Linked DNA regions of Homo sapiens. The protein of the gene in region 2 interacts with the protein of the main gene of each other region in a pairwise test. Each region holds a gene or a part of one and is shown on either strand. Other genes may lie near its edges.

Region 1 (4,866 bases), on a different chromosome or scaffold from region 2:
AATGAAACCTGAGCTTGGTCTAGCATCAAGGTACAATCCAGCACTCTTTCACTTTGATTTTAGCTATCACAAATAACAATAATCAAGGGATTGTATATTTTGTTTGTTTCTTATTGTTTGCGTTTCCTTATGCACCCAGTGAACCAACTCCCTTGGAGTTGGATCTATCTTTGAATTCCACTGGTAATTTTTAAGTACCTGAGCACAGCACAGTTGTGGCTCCATAGCAGGGGTGACCATCTGACCACCCAGGAGTCAAAAGTTCCTCATTTCCCATCCATTTATCCTTTTTCTTCCTAAACCATGCTTCGATGAGCCACTCTAGCTAGAGCCACTCTAGCAAATCCCAATCCTGACATCAATTCTGAGGATACAGAAAAAAACCAACTCAGTTTCTCCTACTATTCTCTCACAACACAGAATGCTTCTGTGACCACATGTGTGAGGGCTTTCCTCACACACCAAGCAAGCAATAATTTCTGCAGCAGACACTGGCTAAATGTCCTCTAATTCTACCTGGAGACATCAGATGCCACAGGTTAAGGGCTTAGTCCCACAAGACTGCCCTCCTCCCACTTCAGATGCCAACTGCAAGCCCCAGGTTGTTTTAACTCTGCTTCTGACCTGGCACCTCTAAACAGAGGTTCCCACAAGCCCCTTCTTGGGTTCAATTAATCTCCTAGAGCAGGTCACAGAACTCAAGAAACACTTTATTTACATTTACCAGTTTTAATAAAGGATATTACAAAGGATACAGATGAAGAGATGTACAGTGCAAAACATAGGAAGGGACACAGCTTCAATGCCCTCTCCAGACATGCCACCTTCCAGTAACCTCAGCTACCTAGCTCACTGACCTCTGTCCTTGTGGGTTTTCATGAGGCTTCATTATACAGGCATGACTGATTAAACCACTAGCCATTGGTGAACAATTAAACCTACAGCCCCTCTCCCCACCCCCTCTAATCACACCTTGGTCTCTCCACTGACTAGCCTCCAGCCCGAAGCTACCTAAAGGTGGCCAGCCACCAGTCAAAACTCATTAGCATACAAAAAGATACTTAATACTTTCGGGATTCCAAGGATTTTTTAGGAGTTCTATGCCAGGAGAGGGAAGGAGAACCAAATATATACTTCCTAATATCACAAGGAGCATTAAGCAATGCTTCTGGGTACTGCTGAATTGGAGTGGCAGCTAACATTACTGAAGTGGGAAAGGCTAGGTACATTTCCAAACTAATTCCCAGGAGTCATTAAATGACACAGGGGTCCCAAGCTGCCTTCCCATTTTAACTATGAACTCCTAGTAGCTGAGAGAAGCTTCTTCCACTTACATTAAATCTGTTAAAATGCCACAGACATCCAAGAACATCAATGTAAGTAACAGAATAGTGTACTGTATGAATCTTGAGGTTTTTATTGCTGTAGTGCAATTAGAAATGGAGAAGGCGGCCAGCTGTGGTGTCTCATGCCTGTAATCCCAGCACTTTGGGAGGCTGAGGCGGGTGGATCACTTGGGGTCAGGAGTTTGAGACCAGTCTGGCCAACAAATCCCATCTTTACTAAAAAATACAAAAAAATTAGCCAGGTGTGGTGGCGGGCACCTGTAATCTCAGCTACTCAGGAGGCTGAGGCAGAAGAGCTGCTTGAACCCAGGAGGCGGAGGTTGCAGTGAGCCAAGATCGCACTACTGCACCCCAGCCCGGGCGACAGAGACTCCATCTCAAAAAAGAAAAAAAAAAAAAAAAGACAAAGTGATGATTAAAATACTAGCCAGGTGCAGTGGCTCATGCCTATAATCCCAACAGCCTCCTTTGGGAGGCTGAGACAGGATGATAGCTTGAGCCTAGGATGGGCAACATATGGAGATCCCATCTCTACAAAAAAACATCAAAAAATTAGTTGGGAATAGTAGGAGGCTGAGGTTGAACCCAGGATGTCAAGGTGCCGGGAGTCGTGATTGTGCCACTGCAGTCCAGCCTCGACAACAGAGAGCCTTAAAAAAGCACTATTATTTCTGACACAGTAAGAACCACTCAGGGACCAAACACCAGCTATACCTGGACTTAGACAGGCCTATGGCTCAAGGTTATCATCAACATTAACTCGGCAGCTTTTGAGGTTAAACAAACTCCACCAGCCTGGCCTGGAAATAAAACGTCTAACACTGTATCCATCAAAAAAGCGCATTTCAAAATCTAAAACTAATCTATCTGTAAACTGGGGACTGTGTGAAATCAGTTCAAATTTTCAACATAATTCAGTATACCCAAAGACTCATTCCCACAACCAAAACCCCCATTCTAAGTCCACAAAAGTACTCACAGAAATGGAAGCAGTGGGATCCAACTGATATTTAGCTGCAATGCCAAAACGAGTGCAGTTGGTACCTGATGTCCAAGCAAGGTTTACTGAAGTGTCAAGATCTTCACAAACTTTCTGATAAATTGATCCTCCAAATTCTGTCCCATCATTGCTATAAGATATTTTAAATTAGTAGATCTAGAATAGACAATGTAATAATGTCTAAGGCACAGGCTGATTTGTAGCATTACATTTAAATAAAAAACCACAGCTCAAGTGGGTCTTTAGTGTTCCACTGAAAACTTGCAAGTTTTAACAGGTTTTTTTCCCCAACCCATACCCATACAGGGATTGGTAAAATGAACCACAGAATATCCATTCAGTGGAATTATCACACTGTATTAAACATGCAAGAGGTTCTCAAACAGCCTTTTGGTTACGTATTTTATATATAAGTATATATACACACACATATAAAAAGGTGAACCACAACATTAACAAAGATTATATACCTAGCTGGCATGATTGTAAGAAACGTAGGTTTTCTTCTTTGTGCTTCTGTTATTTACCAATGAATTTTTACAATGGAAAGAAAAACATTTTAAGTACTTTCTATGTATCTATCTAGTTTGGGCTAGGTAAAAACACCAGGCTGGATGCAGTGGCTCACGCCTATAATCCCAACACTTTGGAAGGCTGAGGCGGGAGGATCGCTTGAGGCCAGGAGTTTGAGACAAGCCTGGGCAACATAGCAAGACCCCATCTCTACAAAAATAATTAAAAACAAACAAACAAAAAAACAACAATAGCCGGGCACAGTGGCTCACGCCTGTAATCCCAGCACTTTGGCAGATCACGAGGTCAGGAGTTCCAGACCAGCCTTGCCAGCATGGTGAAACCCCGTCTCTACCAAAAATACAAAAATTAGCCAGGCATGGTGGCACACGCCTGTAGTCCCAGCTACTTGGGAGGTTGAGGCAGGAGAATTGTTTGAACCCGGGAGGCGGATGTTGGAGTGAGCCGAGATCGCAAAAGAGCAAGACTCTGTCTGAACCAAAACAAAAAAAGAAAGAAAAAAGAAAAAGAAAAAAAAACCCAACCACAAAACACCATACATTTTAGGCAATCCTATCAAGTCAGCATCTCACACATCAAAATAATTAAGTAAAATGAATGTACTGGTAGCAGTCTGCCAATATATAATGCCTCTTGTAAAAATACAAAGCACATTAAACCCCATATAAAATGAACATTTACTCTCTCAGCACCAAAGGTCAGACTAACAGTCTTCTACTATAAACTTTCAAGGGGCACCCTAGAAATGACCAAGAATGATTTTGTTTTTAAATGTTATGAGAAATCCTTTAGGGTGCACCCAGATCAATAAGATGACAGACATCAAAATCATCCTCTGAGGGCCCACATCACAGTATCCTATGAAAGAAATACTTACACATTAGTGTGTAGCTGGAAGTCCCCAGTCCTGTAGCCCACTGCAAAGTTATTCCTTGTCAGCTTTGATTTGGCACTGTCAAAGGTCATCTGGTAGCCAGCAAGCCAGCCCTCATAACCAAAGACAGCTGAACCATGGATTGCAGGTCCAGCAAAATCAAAGTCAACATCACAACCAAGGTTTATACACTCCCTCTTGTAAGAAGACTTGATTTTACCACTTTTCTTTCTGGAAAAAGAACAAACTGATGTCATTGGGAAAAATTTACACACACTTCTGCACAAGAGAGCACAAAACAGACTTAAATAAACTGCAGTATGACCAGGGAGTAAAAATCAGCAATACAATAACAGGGAGTAAAAAAGTCAGCTCAATGAACTACAAGACAAGGACACATGAAGCAACTGGACAGCCATCTAGGAAAACTGCTTTGCAGAACAAACAATCAGTCACAAAAGCCTGTTAGAAACACATTAGTTGCCCAAGTTAGTGCAACAACAAAGAGGCAAATATTTGAAGGCAAGCCAATGATAGCAACCATAGTATTCTAAAAGCAGATATGGGCCAGGCATGGTGGCTCCCGCCTGTAATCTCAGCACTTTGGGAGGCTGAGGCGGGCGGATCACCTGAGGTCAGGAGTTTAAGATCAGCCTGGCCAGCATGGTGAAATCCCGTCTCTACTAAAAATACAAAAAAATTTAGCCAGGCACGGTGGCATATGCCTGTAATCCCAGCTACTCAGGAGGCTGAGGCAGGAGAATCGCTTCAACCCAGGAGGCAGAGGTTGCAGTGAGCCAAGATCGCACCATTGCACTCCAGCCTGGGTGACAGAGAATAAACAAACAGGCTGCGAGCGGTGGCTCACACCTGTAATCCCAGCACTTTGGGAGGCTGAGGTGGGCAGATCACGAGGTCAGGAGTTCAAGACCAGCCTGATCAACACGGTGAAACCCTGTCTCTACCAAAAATACAAAAATTAGGTGGGCGTGGTGGCACATGCCTGTGATCCCAGCTACTCAGGAGGCTGAGGCAGGAGAATCACTTAAACCCGGGAGGCAGAGGTTGCAGTGAGCCGAGATCGCGCCACTGCACTCCAGCCTGTGTGACAG
Region 2 (4,866 bases):
GGGTGTGCAGTGTGGCCGGGGGTGCAGCGCAGAGGGTGCAGTGTGGCCAGGGGTGCAGTGTGGCCAGGGGTGCAGCACGGTGGGTGCAGTGTGGCTGGGGTGCAGCACAGGGGGTGCAGTGTGGCCAGGGGTACATTGTGGCCGGGGCTGCAGTGTGACCAGGGGTGCAGTGTGGCCGGGGATGCCGTGTGGCCGGGGGTGCAGTGTGGCTGGGGGTGCGGTGTGGCCAGGGGTGCAGCATGGGGGGTACAGTGTGGCCGGGAGTGCAGTGCCAGAGGTGCAGGCTGTTGGACGGACCCTCGAGGGCTGAGCCCCAGCCCTTGTTGGGCCCCTGCTGGTCCCCTTGCTCTGGCAGGCTCCTTGTGCCTTCCTGGTCTCAAGGGGCCCCAGGGATGAGTGGTCCTGGGTTAGTGTGGGCTCCAACCGCTAAGGTGTTGGCAAATGATGGCCCTTTCCGAGGCCGGGGAGCACAAGGTTGCATGACTACCTACACAGAGGGGCCAGCCACAGCCTCCTCTCACACCGGCCAGTGGCTGAGCCCATGAGGACACTGAGGCTGGGAAGCCACAGAGGAGGTTGGCGGGGCCACTGGGACTGGACAGGGTCAAGGATGAGACCAGCTCGCACCCGGGGCCCTGGATGGAGCCTCCCCTCCAGCTTCTCTGGGACTGAGGCTGGGAGCTGTCAGGAAGACGAACAGGACTCGCTGGCCCTGGTTGCCTCTGCCGTCCCCTAGAGCTGGGGGAGCCTGCAAGGCAGTCAGCTGGAGAGAGGGTCCGGGTTCAGGCATCCTTCTGAGCAGTTTCATGGCTTTTCTGGCATAACTTTCCAAACCCCAAATGCCCTCGGATGCACTCAGATGCGCCGTACACAACAGGAAGCTCAGCAGGACACGCAGTCTAGGAACATGCACGACCCAGGAGACACCCAAGACCCAGGGGATGTGTGACCCGGGAGACACATGTGACATCGCCACGGAGCACAGCAGAGACGGAACAGCTGCAAAGGTCACGGCGCCCACCCAGAGCTGGTAGATGGGGCGCTGGCGCCGCAGAGGTGGGCCCCACAGCCTTCCACACAGGGGCATCTGACCCACGGCCCGGCCCCTTGCAAAGCCAAGGCCGCAGAGGGGGAAGGTGCAGGAGCTCTGAGATGAAAGAGGTGATGAGTTTGCGGCAATGTAGGAATGAAATACATCGGCCACAGGAGGACGCAGGTGCAAACCACCGAAATAAAGCCATTGCCACACAGGCGGACAGGACGGGGCTCAGGGAGAACCGCTGCTTTTCTCGGGTGCGATCATGGTGGGGTGTCGGGACATGAGGTGAAATGTGCTGGGGCGTGTGAGGGTGCCTCAGTGTGCTTCCCAGCATTCATCCAGGAGAAAACAGACAATGCGTGACACGGCAACAGACGTGTGCACACATGACACAGAAACGCACGTGCACATGCAGAAACACATGCACACATGCGCACACGTGCACACACGACACAGAAACGCGCACACACGACGCAGAAACATGCACACACGACGCAGAAACGCGCACGCGCGCATACACGACGCAGAAACGCACGCGCGCACACGACGCAGAAACGCGCACACGTGCACACAGAAACGCACACACGACGCAGAAACGCGCACACGTGCACACGCAGAAACGCGCACACGTGCACACACGACGCGGAAACGCACACACGTGCACACAGAAACGCGCACACGTGCACACGACGCAGAAAAAGCAAACGGCACGATGCGGTTTCAAGGTGGTGGCCGGAGCCGCCTCCTTGGTGCCCTTTGCCATTTTGCCGCCCGTGGGAATCCTGGGGCAGAAATACAGCAGCACAAAGGCTTTGGGAGGGGCTGGGGGACACCCGAATGGCCAGCTCCATGCATGGGGACACAAGCATCCAACCTCTGAGACTCAGCCGCTGAGCCAGCCCACAGAGGGTCAGGAGCTCTGCCCGCCAGCAGCCACCTGCCCCTCCAGGCTCCAGGCAGCCACTGCCCCCACTCCTGGGGAAGCCCAGTGATCCCAGTCACAGCTCCCTGACTCCGGGGAGCAGCATTCACCCCGAGTCTGCTCTGAGGCCAGACATCCCCTCATAGGCCACCTCCCATGCCGAAACCCTACACACCCACGGGGCTGAGAGGAGCCAGGGCTGCCACTCAGGCCTCGGCACCGAGAAGTCCGGCAATGCCCGGACCCCTGCTCCCTGGGGGCCCAGATGGCACGTTCAGGCTCCCATGTCAGGGCTGCTTCTGAGAAGGGCGGGGTCTTGAAGCACAACCCCCTCCACTCCCCATGGCCCGCTCCCCACAGAACCCACCCAGGGGCTCAGGGCCGCAGACCCCCGTAAGTCAGGTCCCTCGGCCCGTGAGCCCAGCGCACTCACTTGATCTTGCTGAAGACGATGTCCACGTCAGTGACGGTCACGTTCCTGCCGTCGATCACCTGGCAGTCCTTGCACAGCTTCGACCAGTTCTTGCCGTGCATCTCCCTCCCGGTGGCCCTGGCGTCCCCGTGCACGGCAAAGCGCCGGAAGGCCTCCTCCAGGGCACTGAGCTCAGGGGATGCGGCTGCCCCCTCACCAGCACCCTCCGATTCCAGCGACAGCCTCTTGGCTGCCCGGTCCTTCGAGGGGTCCCCCGGGGACTTGGGGGGCGTCCTGTTGGCAGCTTTGGCAGGCTTGGCCTTGTCAGCCATGTTGCTATGGAGGAAGGAGAGGAGAAAGGTGTCACCCGGGCCATGTCCCAGCTGAGCCGGGTGCAGCCCAGGAAACCCCGCCGTACCAATGAGCACCAGGACGTGGCGAGGGCTGAGATGGGCAGGCCCTCCTGGGGCTGGGCGTGAGGCCCCTCAGACCCTTGGAGCCAGCTGCCCCGCAGGCACGCATGTCCAGCCCCGGGCAGAGTGGAGCCAAGCGAGGCCTTGCCCACTGCCATCATTGGGCCAAGGACCCCCTAAGCCAAATAAAGCCAGCAGCACGCAGAGCCCAGGGTGGGAGCTGAGCTGGGTGCCAGGGGCTCCAGGCCTAGGAGGCTCAGTGTGTGACTGGCAGCATCAGAGCCTATTCCGGGTCCCCTCCCCGCCGCAGTTCCACTGTCCCTCCTGTGGACGCCCGCTCTGCAGCTCTGGAGGACACCTCGGGATCACGCACTCCCCAGGGTCTGTGACGTGCTGCCTTCCTCTGGGAGGGTCCACAGCAGTCGTGCGACAGCCGCTCCCTCCCCACTGCAGAGCCTCTGACCTTAGATGGAGCTTTAGGCTGGGGAGGGTGCGTGGTGGCCCTGGGGGCGCCTCAGGATGCTCTTCCCAGGAGCCCTGGGCCTGGCCCCGGCCAGGGGAGGGGACTGCCAGTGTGCAGGGCTGAGGCAGTGGTGGGGGCACCGGTGTCAGGGCGCAGGGACGCCCTCTGGACTTTGCAAGGCGCCCGCCCCCAGAGTAGGCGGCTGGGCCATGGGGTTGAGAAGACTGAGGGGTGCCACCCAGGCAGGGCTTGGGGACGCAGGGCTACGCCACAGGGCAGGGCTGCCGAGGCCACCTCCCTACCATGCATGGGCTTCGGTAAGACCCAGTCAGGCCCTGAAGGACTCAAGGCTGAGGTGCTGGACTCAGGGCATGAAAGCTGCTTCCCAAAGGGGCCTGGACACCAGGTGGGCCGTCAGCACTGCACTGAGAGCTGAACATGGCCTCTGCCCACAGACACAAGAGCCGGTGGGAGGGTCCGTGCCGAGGACACAGGTAGGTGTCCCAACCCTGGGACTCACGAAGCCCTCTCAGATCTGGAGTTCTCAGCGCCAGTCATGGCCAAAGTGTGGCTCTGTAATCGTGGGGTCCTGAGTGTGGCCGCTGCTGACCCTGAGATCCCACAAATTCCCCCAAAACAGCCAGAAAAAAATCCAGGGGCACTCCCTCCACTGAGGACCTTAAGGGCCTCAGGCCCCACCCACTCACCCCTTTCCCTGGAAGGCACCAAAAATGCAGATGCCAACCCAGCGGAGGATGCAGGGGCAGGATCCTGGTGGGGGCTGGGCCGCGTGGGGGCAGGATCCTGGGGGTGGAAGGGCCGCCTGGGGGCAGGATCCTGGGGGTGGAAGGGCCAGGTCAGGTGTCGAGCTGGGAACAGTTTCCAGTTTTATCGCTGACACCATTTCTTTGTCTGAAACAGGAGCTTCTCACAGGCCTGGTCTGTGTTTCCCCTGGGCCTCTGCAGCAGGGGTCGCTGGACAGGAGGAGCAGCTGAGAAATTACCAGAAGCAATGGTGGGTTTTGTGAGCACCCAGAACAGTGGTGGGTGTGCGGGTCAGAGAGAAAGAACCTTCTGGGATGCTTCAAACTCAGGGCTGCGTTCTGTGGTCTCATCTCCTGTGGGGACGCGCCTGAACAGAGACCCTTATTCACACACCTCAGAGAGTCATCTGAGAACCTGCACCCCGTGGGGCCCGCCTGGGAGCAAAGGGATGAGGGAAGCCCCTCAGAGCCACCTTCAGGGCTCACGCAGGACTTCCCAGCCCATCAGCACGTGCTTTGCATGAGGTTTTGATAAGCTTGGAGGTTGGCCTTGGAGGGCTGAGCGGGACATAAAACGTCCTGCCCTCATGAGGCCTTCAGTTGGGACAAGTGATAAACAAATAAGCAATGACACATCAGGCAGCGAGGAGTGAAGAGGAGAAACTGAGGCAGGTCAGAGGGAGGCCAGCAGGCGATTTCAGACCTGGCGGAAGAGAATGTGCGTGAGCAGAGATGCGGACGGGTGGGAGTCACGACGCGTGAGAACGGTCCGGCCCGCGGCCCCTGCGCCCCTGCTGGGCAGGCACCACCTGTGCTAGGCTCAGCCCCTCTCAGCACAGCAAGCAGCATGAGA

The links.
Region 1: the proteins of TPPP (region 2) and VDAC2 interact in binary tests that used the Homo sapiens proteins (3 or more experiments, as listed by UniProt).

What each region holds. Positions count from the first base shown.
Region 1 is NC_000010.11:75,219,862-75,224,727, reverse strand, and holds part of VDAC2 (non-selective voltage-gated ion channel VDAC2), read right to left. Parts: intron 3,986-4,866; coding exon 3,758-3,985; intron 2,477-3,757; coding exon 2,326-2,476; intron 1-2,325. UniProt on the Homo sapiens protein: Non-selective voltage-gated ion channel that mediates the transport of anions and cations through the mitochondrion outer membrane and plasma membrane.
Region 2 is NC_000005.10:675,356-680,221, forward strand, and holds part of TPPP (tubulin polymerization-promoting protein), read right to left. Parts: intron 4,588-4,866; exon of another isoform or gene 4,154-4,587; coding exon of another isoform or gene 3,957-4,153; intron 2,710-3,956; coding exon of another isoform or gene 2,706-2,709; coding exon 2,395-2,705; intron 1,262-2,394; exon of another isoform or gene 1-1,261.